Homo sapiens: one gene and its partners. The protein of the gene in region 3 purifies or fractionates together with the protein of the main gene of each other region. This does not show direct contact. Each region holds a gene or a part of one and is shown on either strand. Other genes may lie near its edges. The genes, in order: TBC1D4, USP29 and CTDSPL.

Region 1 (3,500 bases), on a different chromosome or scaffold from region 3:
TTAGTCCCAAACAATCTGTGTATTTCCTGATTGCAGAGTCAGGAAATACTTAACTTTTGAAGCAATAATGGTTACTCCTGGGAAGTTTTATAATTGGCTGCATAGTGATAACGTGGACTTTAATAAATACAATGAAAATACCGCCAGCTTATTTAGAAAGAGAGAACTTAGAGCTAATACTGAGGACTACACCAGTTTGGCAAAATCATTGCTCTTCGTGACCACCTCCAGTTTCCAGCTGGCTTCCTGATCAAAGGTATCTTTCCTTAGTGCTTTTTCACTCTCCAGATTTTCTCCTGTGTTTGTTCAGGTCTTTGAACATCAGTGTTTGGTAGTTGTAGAATTTGTTTTATTTTGAAATCAGGTAAAATGTAGTTTATAAAATGTTAATGGGTTTTTTGAAGTATGTTAAGTAACTATGATAACCAATTAATGAGAAAGAACAGCATGACATCAAGGAATCTAGAAGCAATATTTTTTTTTTTTTGTCTAGAGTGAGGAATTGCTTTAATGTCTGAGTCTTGGTACTTGATTCTAAATTGTTTTAGTGAGGTCACTGAAGGTGTAACAACAAAATACTAGCTAAAGGTGGCACTGTGCTTTTTCTAAATATAATGAGACCCTTATTTCTGTTGAATTGATTCCTGTGTGTTAATGGAAATGGATCATTTTAACAACTTGCACACTACTTCAGGTTTAATCATAAAGGTGATTTTTCCCTCTCTTGATTGTACATTATCCTGCCTTTATATTGGCATTAATCCAAAAATTAACTCACAGAATGTGGATCTCGATGAGACCTTATCAACCATCTATCAAGTTCCCCCATTCACTTTGCTCTTGAGGAAGTTATCTGGCAGAGGTGCAACAACTATTCCCAGAGGTCTTGAGCAAAATATTGGGGATAGAATATAAACCTGTCAGTCCCTAGTTTGGTTGAGCCTCTTTCAGTATCATTGTTTTGTGTTAATAGATTAAATGCTGCCACTGAGTAGAAATCTTGCCTTAAATTGGTGTGTGTAAATCGTCATTAGGCTCTGTGGGTTGTAGGCAGATTCTGAGCAGCGGAATTATTTGTAGCTACAATATGTAGCTAGGGTGTGTAGCTTGAGGTGCTCTATAACATTTAGAGTCATTCTGGAAACATACCGTCACTTCCTAGTTTGGGTGAATGGTGAGCAGAGTGAGAAGCCACTGCTTTCTATTTTTGGGTGTGACAGATCTCTTGAGTCACCAACGGGAATTTACTAAACTGTCTCAGTCCTGAAGAATTTATATCAGAGTTCTAGGTAGTTTTTCACTCCTATATATATGACTCTGTTTGCTGTCAGCATTCATTCAAGTTCTTCTGAGCCCAGACCATTTTCCTAGTGGCCACAGGGAGGAATTCTAGTAAGCAACAAAATCCCCCCAACTCAGTCTTTCACTTAAGAGCTTATGGTACGATGGTACAGGAGAAAGAGATATTGAAAAGATACAACACATATAAGAAGGATTCAAATTCGTTCAACAATATTTGTAAATGTATGTATAAATATATGTCAGTTAACACTATGCTACAGGAGAATCCTATGATTCCAAAATATTGTATGTATGTACAAGTACTTGATAGAAATTTTATTTCTCTTGCATTGTTTCTGATGAATCCCTTAAGTAAATGCTTCAATACAAGATTTTCATGATTCTCTGATCACTCATTTCCCCGCTATGGATATTTTACTGTGCTTATATGAGCAGTGTGCCCCTTCTGGTGTGGCCTAAGTGAGTAGTCAGGGGCTGTATAATGCTAGTGTTTATACTCTGTGTTTCACATGAGGATAAGCAAAAAAAAAAAAAACAGAGCTGTTGTTAGATTAGTTTTGCAGAGTCTCTGCAACCCATGTCATTCAAGTTGTGGTTAGTCATAACCTGAGAAAAGGTAGTAAAGGTAACTAGAACCAGTTTTGTGTTGTAATATTAGCATCTTAAATTATTAAAGATTAAATTATGTACTCAGTTTAGAATTCAAGATGATAAACTTTGCTTATATAAATTGGATCACTTACAGAATTACATTTAGGTGTTGAGTTTTTACCTGTAGTCACAGGGAAGGATCCTGGGAGACTACAGAAATTCAGCCACAAATCAGTTTTTCATGTAAAAACTCTTGATATGGCGGTAGAGAAATTCAAAAGACTTGACACAATTAAGGTTGAATTGACTTTATGTGCAATCTCAATTGTAGAATGGAACTCTGAGGTTGTATGTAAATCATTTAAATATTTGTAACAAGATAAAATATCTGCAGTAAAATCAGTGCTACAGGCTATATTTCTGATTCCGTACTCTGTAGAGACACTTTTGGAGGCATACTTGGGTTAAAAATTAGATGAAAAGTATTTAGTGGAAATCAGACAAAAAGATTTTGGGTTAAAAATCAGATTAAAAATATTTAGTAATCAGATGAAAAGTAGAGAGAAAGAAGAGATCATTCTCCTAGGGCTTTGCCCACTAGAATCATTTTATTTTTTGCAGGTTTGCACGGTTGAGTGTCAGCTAGCTCACTCTCCATAGCTTTGGCCCTTGCCAGGTAAGGTAAATCACATACTAAGGCAGTAAGAAAATGATGAAGGGTTGAGGTTGCTAGTCACATGTTAGCACAGATACCTGACTTTGTCCCTGAGACATGGCAAGTGTTCAGGGTGAGTCACTGAAGCTATAGCATGTGGATTTTATCCTTTCATAGGAAATACTTGGTCTAGCAAGCGGAAATTCTTGTTATTTGTAAACTATGAATGTTCTAGCAGTATATCCCAAATAATTACAACAGCCCCTCCTTATCCACAGTTTCAGTCACCTGTGGTCATCTGTGGTCCGAAAATATTAAATGGATGTGGCAATAAACTGTTAACATCTCTGAACTCAGAGACCTTGTGGGAGGAATGTGCCTTGTATGTTGGAGAAATAGCAAGGAGGCCATTGTGGCTGGAGCTGAGTAGAAGGGAATTTAGTAGGAGATAAACTCTAGGAACCAATTGCCAATCAGGAAATCTTTGAATCCACCTACGATCTGGAACTGCACCGCCCCCACCATGCACACTCCCCACCCTGCCCCTTTGAGTTCTCCCACCTTTGTGGATCGAACCAATGTACATCTTACATATACTGATTGATGTCTCATGTCTCCCTAACATGTAGAAAACCAAGCTGTAGCCCAACCACCTTGGGCACATGTTCTCAGAACCTCCTGAGGCTGTGTCATGGTCATGCCCTTAACCTTGGCAAAATAAACTTTTAAACTGATTGAGACCTGTCTCAGATACTTTTTGGTTTATAGAATGTACCACATTTTATTTATCTCTTCACTTGCTGATGGACGTTTGGATTGTTCTCAGTTTTAGAGTTGTGAACCAGAAAATCTGAGACAGGTCTCAGTTAATTTAGAAAGTGTATTTTGCCAAGGTTGAGGATGCGCACCTGTGACACAGCCCCAGGAAGTCCTGATGACATGTCCCCAGGGT
Region 2 (4,218 bases), on a different chromosome or scaffold from region 3:
GGCACCGCAGTACCAAGAAATGTTTACCTTTTTCCAAGAATCTTCATGAATATTCCACCCCTTGGTTAAATAAATATTTAAAGGTAGCTCCAAACCCCGCTGGGCGTGATGCTCTGTGGTATGCCTGCACTTTTCTTTCTTCAGTACGTACTTATTCCCGTCGCAATGAATCTCCACACTTTGTTCTGCTCATCCATGAATTCCTTCTCACGACAGTGTCAAGAGCCTGGACACCAGTCAGGGTCGAGGCCTCACCAGCATCTTGGGGCCTCACTGGGCACAGACGCGTGAGCGCCCGGCCTGCAGACCTGACTCTGGCAGCCGCTCAGGCCCTCAGAGGGAGAGATGGAAGCTGGCAGGACGCAGTTGCTACCGCGCGGACCCGGCCCCCGACCAGCCTTGGCCCCTCGCGCGCCGGGACAGGGCCACAAATGACTGCACCTGGGCTTCGCTGGCCCAGGCACCACGCGACTCTAAGCGCGCCCAAAGCGACCCTCTGCGCAAACTACCCCCGGGGACGACGTCACCCGTGAGGTCCCGCGGCGCCTCCTCCTAAAGCTCGGCTGGGAAACCGTCCGCTTCCCCAAGACTTGGGGGCTTGTGGCCGAGTTGTTTTAGTTTTCCTGTAGGATTCACGGGTGGCTGAGGCAAACACGCTTGAAGGCCTAAGACTTTTAAGTCTCTTCCGCACCCTCTCTTCTGTCTCTTCCACCTGGAGGATGACCGCTTTTTTGGGGGTTTTGTTGTTGTTTTGAGACGGAGTCTCGCTCTGTCGCCCAGGCTGGATTGTAGTGGCGCCATCTCCGCTCACTGCAACCTCCGCCTCCCGGGTTCAAGCGATTCTCCTGCCTCAGCCTCCCGAGTAGCTGGGATTACAGGCGCCCACCACCATGCCCGGCTGATTTTTGTATTTTTAGTAGAGACGGGGTTTCGCCACGTTGGTCAGGCTAATATCAAACTCCTGACCTCAGGTGATCCGCCCTCCTCGGCCTCCCAAAGTGCTGGGATGACAGGCGTGAGCCACCGCGCCCGGCCGGGATGACTGTTATTAACAATTCCCGGCGTGGTTTCTAGCACCAGCCCACCTACCACACCCCACCTCGCTTGAGGCTGAATGGGTAACAGGATGAACCCGCCCCTGGGCTGGTTTTCTCTGAACCCTAACTCCTGCCGTTACGCCCCACCAGCTCTAGGCCAGGAACTCTATGTGCCCCGGCCACGCTAGAGCCCGTACCTAGACCCGTAGGTCGGGAGGCCTGCGCCCGGCACTGCGCAGACGCAGCGTGCTGTGCCCAGAACTCTTCTGTTCCCAGGAGAATCAGGGGAGTCGGCGCCGGAAGGGGCGGGTCCGAGCTGAGATTTCCAGAGCCATGGGAGCCGGAAGTCCAAGGAACTGTACCTCCATCATGACGACTCCGGTTACGTAAAAACATTCAAACAGAAAATGCTGGCCAGGCTCATGCCTGTAATCCCAGCACTTTGGGAGGCCGAGGCGGGAGGATCGCTTGTGCCCAGGAGTTGGAGACCAGCCTGGGCAACATAGTGAGACCCTCCCCCCACCCATCTCTACAAAAAATTTTAAAATTAGCTAGCTGAGATCATGCCACTGCACTCCAGCCTGGACAACAAAGTGAGACTATGTCTCAAAAAAATTTAAAAATTACCCACGCCTGTAGTGTCAGATAGTCAGGAGGCAGAGGTTGGAGGATGACTTGAGCCTTGGGGATCGAGGGTGTAGTGAGGTATGATCGCACCACTGCACTCCAGCCTGGGCAACAGAGCAAGACCCTGTCTCAAAAACTATATAAAAGAAAAAAGGGCTGGGTCGGTGGCTCACGCCTGTCATGCCAGCACTTTGGGAGGCCGAGGCGGGTAGATCACCTGAGGTCAGGAGTTTGAGACCAGCCTGACCAACAAGGTGAAACCCTGTCTCTACTAAAAATACAAAAATTAGCTGGCCATGATGGTGGGTGCCTGTAATCCCAGCTACTGGGGAGGCTGAGGCAGGAGAATCACTTGAACCCCAGAGGTGGAGGTTGCAGTGAGCCGAGATCACACCACTGCACTCCAGCCTGGGCGACAGAGCGAGAGACTCCGTCTCAAAAAAAAAAAAAAAAAAAAAAAAACAGAAAAAAGGCCGGGCACGGTGGCTCACTCCTGTAATTCCAGAACTTTGGGAGGCCAAGGCGGGCGGATCAGGAGTTCGAGACTGCCTGGGCAACATAGCGAAACCCCGTCTCTACTAAAAATACAAAAAATTAGCCAGGCGTGGTGGCGGGCTCCTGTAATCCCAGCTACTCAGGAGGCTTAGGCAGGAGAATCACTTGAACCCAGGAAGCAGAGGCTGCAGTGAGCCGAGATCACGCCATTAAACTCCAGCCTCGGTGACAGAGTGAGACTCCATCCCCGCTCCGCTCCCTCACCTCCCGCCAAAAAAAAAAAAGAAAATGCACTGCAATAGAAAAATAAAAGTACTACACTTTGGTCAAACAGGGTAACTACTAGAACGTAAAATGATCTTTTTGAAACTATCCACATTTGTTACACGTGTTGAAAATGTAGGATATATATGTTATATATATACTTATATATGTTATATATACTTATATATGTTATATACTTATATATGTTATGTACTTATATATTATATATACTTATATATGTTATATCTACTTATGTTATATACTTATATATGTTATATATACTTATATATGTTATACATACTTATATGTTATATATACTTATGTTATATACTTATATATGTTATATATACTTATACATGTTATACATACTTATATGTTATATATACTTATATATGTTATATATACTTATATATGCTATATATACTTATATATGCTATGTATACTTATATATGTTATATATATACTTATATGTATGTTATATATACTTATATATGTTATATATGCTTATATGTATGTTATATATGCTTATATGTTATATATACTTACATATGTTATATATACTTACATATGTTATATGTACTTACATATGTTATATATATACATATATGTTATATATATATAATTATATATATATAAAACAAAAAGCACGGTTACTACAAAGAAAACAGGTAAACATTAAGTGGAGTAAAAGTATATCCTGTTATATAAGGGACTTGAACATGTCTGGGCATGGTGGCTCAAGCCTGTAATCCCAGCACTTTGGGAGGCTGAGGCGGGTGGATTACTGGAGGTCAGGAGTTCGAGACCTGGGCAACATAGCAAGACCTTGTCTCTATTAAAAAATAGATAGATAGATAGATAGATAGATACATAGAACATCAAAAGAGGGAGAGAGAAAGCAGACAGATGTGGCAAAATATACACAATTGGTAAATTTGGGTGAAGGGAATATAAGTTATTTCTACTAATCTTGCAATTCTTATGTATATTTGCAATGATTTCTAAATAAAAGTTTTTAATTACCAATTGAAATAAAGTAAAATAAGTCACTATCTAGCCTTTTCTAGACAAATATTTTAAACTCTTACACAGAGATAAGTTAATCAAGAAACGTATTTCCTGGAAAAACCCGTGATATGGGTGGAGCCACCTGGGAATAAAAGGTCGGAACATCATAATCACTGTCAGACTCAACTTCCATCATTCTCCTCCAGGCGCTATGGAGTCTAATCCAGGCACTTTGGAAGGCTGAGGCTGGAGGATCGATTGAGGCCAGGAGTTTGGGACCACCCTGGGCAACATAGCAAGATCTCATTTCTGAAAAAAGAATTATCATCCACTCACCCAGAACAGCTCTCCAAACTGTAAGTTTCATTCAAGGTTTGCTTGTTTGGGTGATGGGATGTGTGTGTGTGTGTGTGTGTGTGTGTGTGTGTGTGTGTGTGTATGTGTGTGTGAGTGTTGGAAGGAGGGTCTGTCTAAACTTAATGCCCTAAAGATATTGTCAGATATTGTGATGAGGGGAATTTCATCTTCTACCCTTTATGAGGTTGAATTGTAAATTCGAAAATCCTGATTCTGGGTTTTTATTTTGAGGGGATAGTTTTCTGTTTTCTGTGGCATTGGATATTGGCATTTTCAGAAAAGAGCATGCATCCAAAATGAAAATGATGAAGCCTACCTGTCTTTTGAACTCAGCTCAGGGAAAAGCTGATGATCTCTAATTTTTGTGATTCCTCCTTTCATTAAATTTAAGGTCCAGTGAGGGTGAAGTTTCCCTAAAGAGGCAATAATT
Region 3 (3,734 bases):
GCACTCCGCTCTAGCCTGGGTGAGACAGAGCCTCAGCAAAGAAATAGTCTCAGCAGAGAAGAGGAAGATATAAAGAAAAACCAAATGGAAAATTTAGAACTAAAAAATATAATAATTGAGATAAAAATCTCAGTGGATGTGCTCAATAACAGACTAGAAGAAATAAGGAAAAAAACCCAACAAATTTGAAGACAGAACAACAGAAATTACCCAACTGAACAACATAGGGGAGAAAAGACTGAAAACCAAAAAAGCTCAGTATGGATAAATCTGTGGGACTATAACAAAAGATCTAACATTTATGTCATCATAGTCTCAGAAGGAGAAGAGAAAGAGCAGAGCTGAAAAAGTACTCAAGAAAATAATGCCTGAAAACTCCCCCAGTTTAGCAAAGACATAAACCAAGAAGCAGAATGAACTGCAAACAGAATAAGCTAAAAGAAATCCATGCCAAGACATATCATAACTAAACTTCTGAAAGCTAAAGATGGTAGGGCCACTTTGGAACACAGTTTGGCAGTTTCTTACAAAACAACAAAATACTCTTACCATACAAACCAGCAATCATGTTCCTTGGTATTTACCCTAAAGAGCTGAAAACTTAAATCTACACAAAGACCTGCACACATATGTTTATAGTAGCTTTATTCATAAGGGCTAAAACTTGGAAGCAACCAACATGCCCTTCAGTAGGTGAATGGATAAACTGTGGTACATACAGACTATGAAATATTAATCAGTATTAAAAAGAAATAAGTTAACAAGCCATGAAAAGACATGGAGGAAATGAAAATGCATATTACTAAGTGAAGGAAGCAAATCTGAAATGGCTACATACTATATGATTCCAAGTATATGACGTTCTAGAAAAGGCAAATCTATGGTGACAGTAAAAAGATCAGTGGTTGCCAGGGATTGGGCAGGGGAGAGAGAGATGAATAAGTGGAGCACAGAGGATGTTTAGGGCAATGAAATTATTCTGTATAATACTATAATGGTAGGTATATGTAATTATACATTTGTACAAACTCATAGAATATAAAACCCCAGGAGTGAACCCTTATGTTCTTGGACCTTGGGTGATAATGACATGTCAACACAGGTTTATCAATTGTAATAAATGGGCCACTCTGGTGTGGGATGTTGATAGTATGGGGAGCTATGCATCTGTGCAGTCAGGGAATATATGGAAATTCTCTGTGCTTTCTGCTCAATATGGCTGAGAACCTAAAACTGCTTTTAAAAATAAAGTATATTTTTAAAAAGTATTGAACTGAATGAAAACCAAAATTGCAAAATATCAAAATTCGTGGGACACAGCTAAGGTAGTGTTGAGAGAGAAACTTGTAGCACTAAATGCATAAATTAGGAAAGGGAGAAAGCCTCAAATCATTCATCTAAGTGCCCCTTCAAGAACCTAGAAAAAGAAGAGCAAAATAAACCCAAATAAAGCGGAAGTAAGGAAATAAAGATAAGAACAGAAATCAACAAAGTTGAAAACAGAAGCAATTTTAAAAATCAATGCAACAAAGAACTGGTTATTTGTAAAGAATAAGAAAATTGAGAAACCTCAAGCAAGATTGACACACAAAAAATAAGATGGAGGACACACATTGTCAACATCAGGAATGAAACAGGGCATAACACTACAGATTCTGCAGGCATCAAAAAGGTAATAAGGGAAAAATGCTATGAATAGCTCTATACACACAAATTTGACAACTTAGATGAAATGACTCAAATCTCAGAAAAACAAAAAACTACCCAAGTTGCCCAATCTGAAAGAGATAATTTAAATAGCTCTATAACTATTAAGAAAATTCAATCTGTAGTTTAAAAATTCCCCCCAACCCCCATCCCTCCGAAAAAACGTCCAGGCCCAGATGATTTCACTGGAAAATTCACACCAATTCTACACAATCTCTTCCAGAATACAAAAGAGAGGTAACACTGATACCAAACCAGATAAAGACAACACAAAAAAAGAAAACTGCAGACCAACATCACTTACAGACAAAAAAATCCTTAACAAAATATTAGCAAATAGAATTCATCAATATATAGAAAGAATTATACACCACAACCAAGTAAGGTTCATTCCATGGACGCAAGTCTGGTTCAATATTCAAAAATCAGTTTAATCTATCGCATTAACAGACTAAAGGAGAAAAATCACATGATTAGACTAATTGTTGCAGAAAAAGCATAAGACAAAAGTTAACATTCATTCTTGATTAAAAACTCTCAGAAAAATTGAATTAGAAGGTTACTTCCTCAACCTGTTAAAGACTTCTATTAAAAAACCTACAGCTGACATTATACTAATGATAAAATACTGAATGGTTTCCCCCTAAGACTGGGACCAAGACAAGGATGTCCATTCTCACTACTCTTGTTCGACATACTGCTAAAGTTCTAGTCAGTGCAATAAAGCAAGAAAAAGAAATAAAAGGCATACAAGTCAGAAATGAAGACATGTAAGTGTTCTTATTTGATGACACGTTTGTCTATGTGAAGGACTTCAGGGAATCTATAAAAAGCCTCTTACAACTAATAAGTGAGCTCAGCAAGGTCATAGGATACAAGATAAGTATTCAAAAATCTTTTGTATGTCTGCATGTTAGCACTGAACACGTGGGCACCAAAATAAAAAATAAATACAATTGATAGTCGCTTAAAAAATAAACACTCTACAGCATTGTAGGATAACTATGGGCAACAATACTATATAGTTTTAAATAACTAAAAGGAGGATAATAAATGCGCCCAACACAAAGAAATGATAAATGTTTGAGATGATGGATATGCTAATTACCTTGATCTGATCACTACGCAATGTGTTTATATGATTATATACCCTATAAATATGTAAAACTATGATGTATCAATTAAAATATGTATAGTTTAAAAAGAACACTCAGATGTAAATCTAATAAAATATTAATAGGACTTGTATGCTGAAAGCCTAATGGCAGAATCAAAGATCTAAATAAATAGAGAGACGTACTGTGTTCATGGATTGGAAGACTTAATCTAGAAAAGATGTCAGTTCTCCTCAAATTGATACACAGGTTTAATTAAATTCCTATCAAAATCTCAGGAAGATATTTGTAGATATAGACAAGAGTATTGTAAAATTTACATAATGTGGCAACAAAACTAGAACAGCTAAAACAATTTTGAAAAAGAACAAAAGTTGGAAGCATCAGTCTACTCTATATCATGACTTATTATTTAGCTACAGAAATCAAGATTATATAGTATAGGCAGGGGGATGGACATATAGATCAGTGGGACAAAATAAATAAACCCAGAAACAGACCCACATAAATATGCCCAACTAATTTTTGACAAAGATGCAAAAGAAATTCAAAGGAGGAAGGACAGATAACTTTTTCAACAAATGTAGCTGAAGCAACCAGACACTCAGAGACAAAAAACCAAACCAAAGTTTCACGCCTTATTAAAAAATGGACTCAGAATGGATCATGAACTTAAATTTAATGTAAAATTATAAAACTTGGAAAAAGCGTAGGAGAAAACCTTCGGGATCTAGTGCTAGGCAGAGAGTTCTTAGATTTGACACCAAAAGCACAATCAATAAAAGGAAATATTTATATATTGCACCTTATCAAAATTTAAAACTTTTGCTCTGAAAAAGGCTCTTTAGAGGATGAAAAGCCAAGCTATAGGCTAGAAGAAATACTTGCAAACCACATATCTGAAAAAGGACT

Evidence for each region.
Region 1: the proteins of CTDSPL (region 3) and TBC1D4 purify together in Homo sapiens (affinity purification with mass spectrometry; one large-scale study listed by BioGRID and IntAct). This does not show direct contact.
Region 2: the proteins of CTDSPL (region 3) and USP29 purify together in Homo sapiens (affinity purification with western blotting, with the first as the bait; one study listed by BioGRID). This does not show direct contact.

The regions. Positions count from the first base shown.
Region 1 is NC_000013.11:75,363,670-75,367,169, reverse strand, and holds part of TBC1D4 (TBC1 domain family member 4), read left to right. Parts: intron 1-3,500.
Region 2 is NC_000019.10:57,118,688-57,122,905, forward strand, and holds the start of USP29 (ubiquitin carboxyl-terminal hydrolase 29), read left to right. Parts: upstream 1-1,297; 5' UTR 1,298-1,542; intron 1,543-3,637; 5' UTR 3,638-3,787; intron 3,788-4,218.
Region 3 is NC_000003.12:37,868,313-37,872,046, reverse strand, and holds part of CTDSPL (CTD small phosphatase-like protein), read right to left. Parts: intron 1-3,734. UniProt on the Homo sapiens protein: Recruited by REST to neuronal genes that contain RE-1 elements, leading to neuronal gene silencing in non-neuronal cells.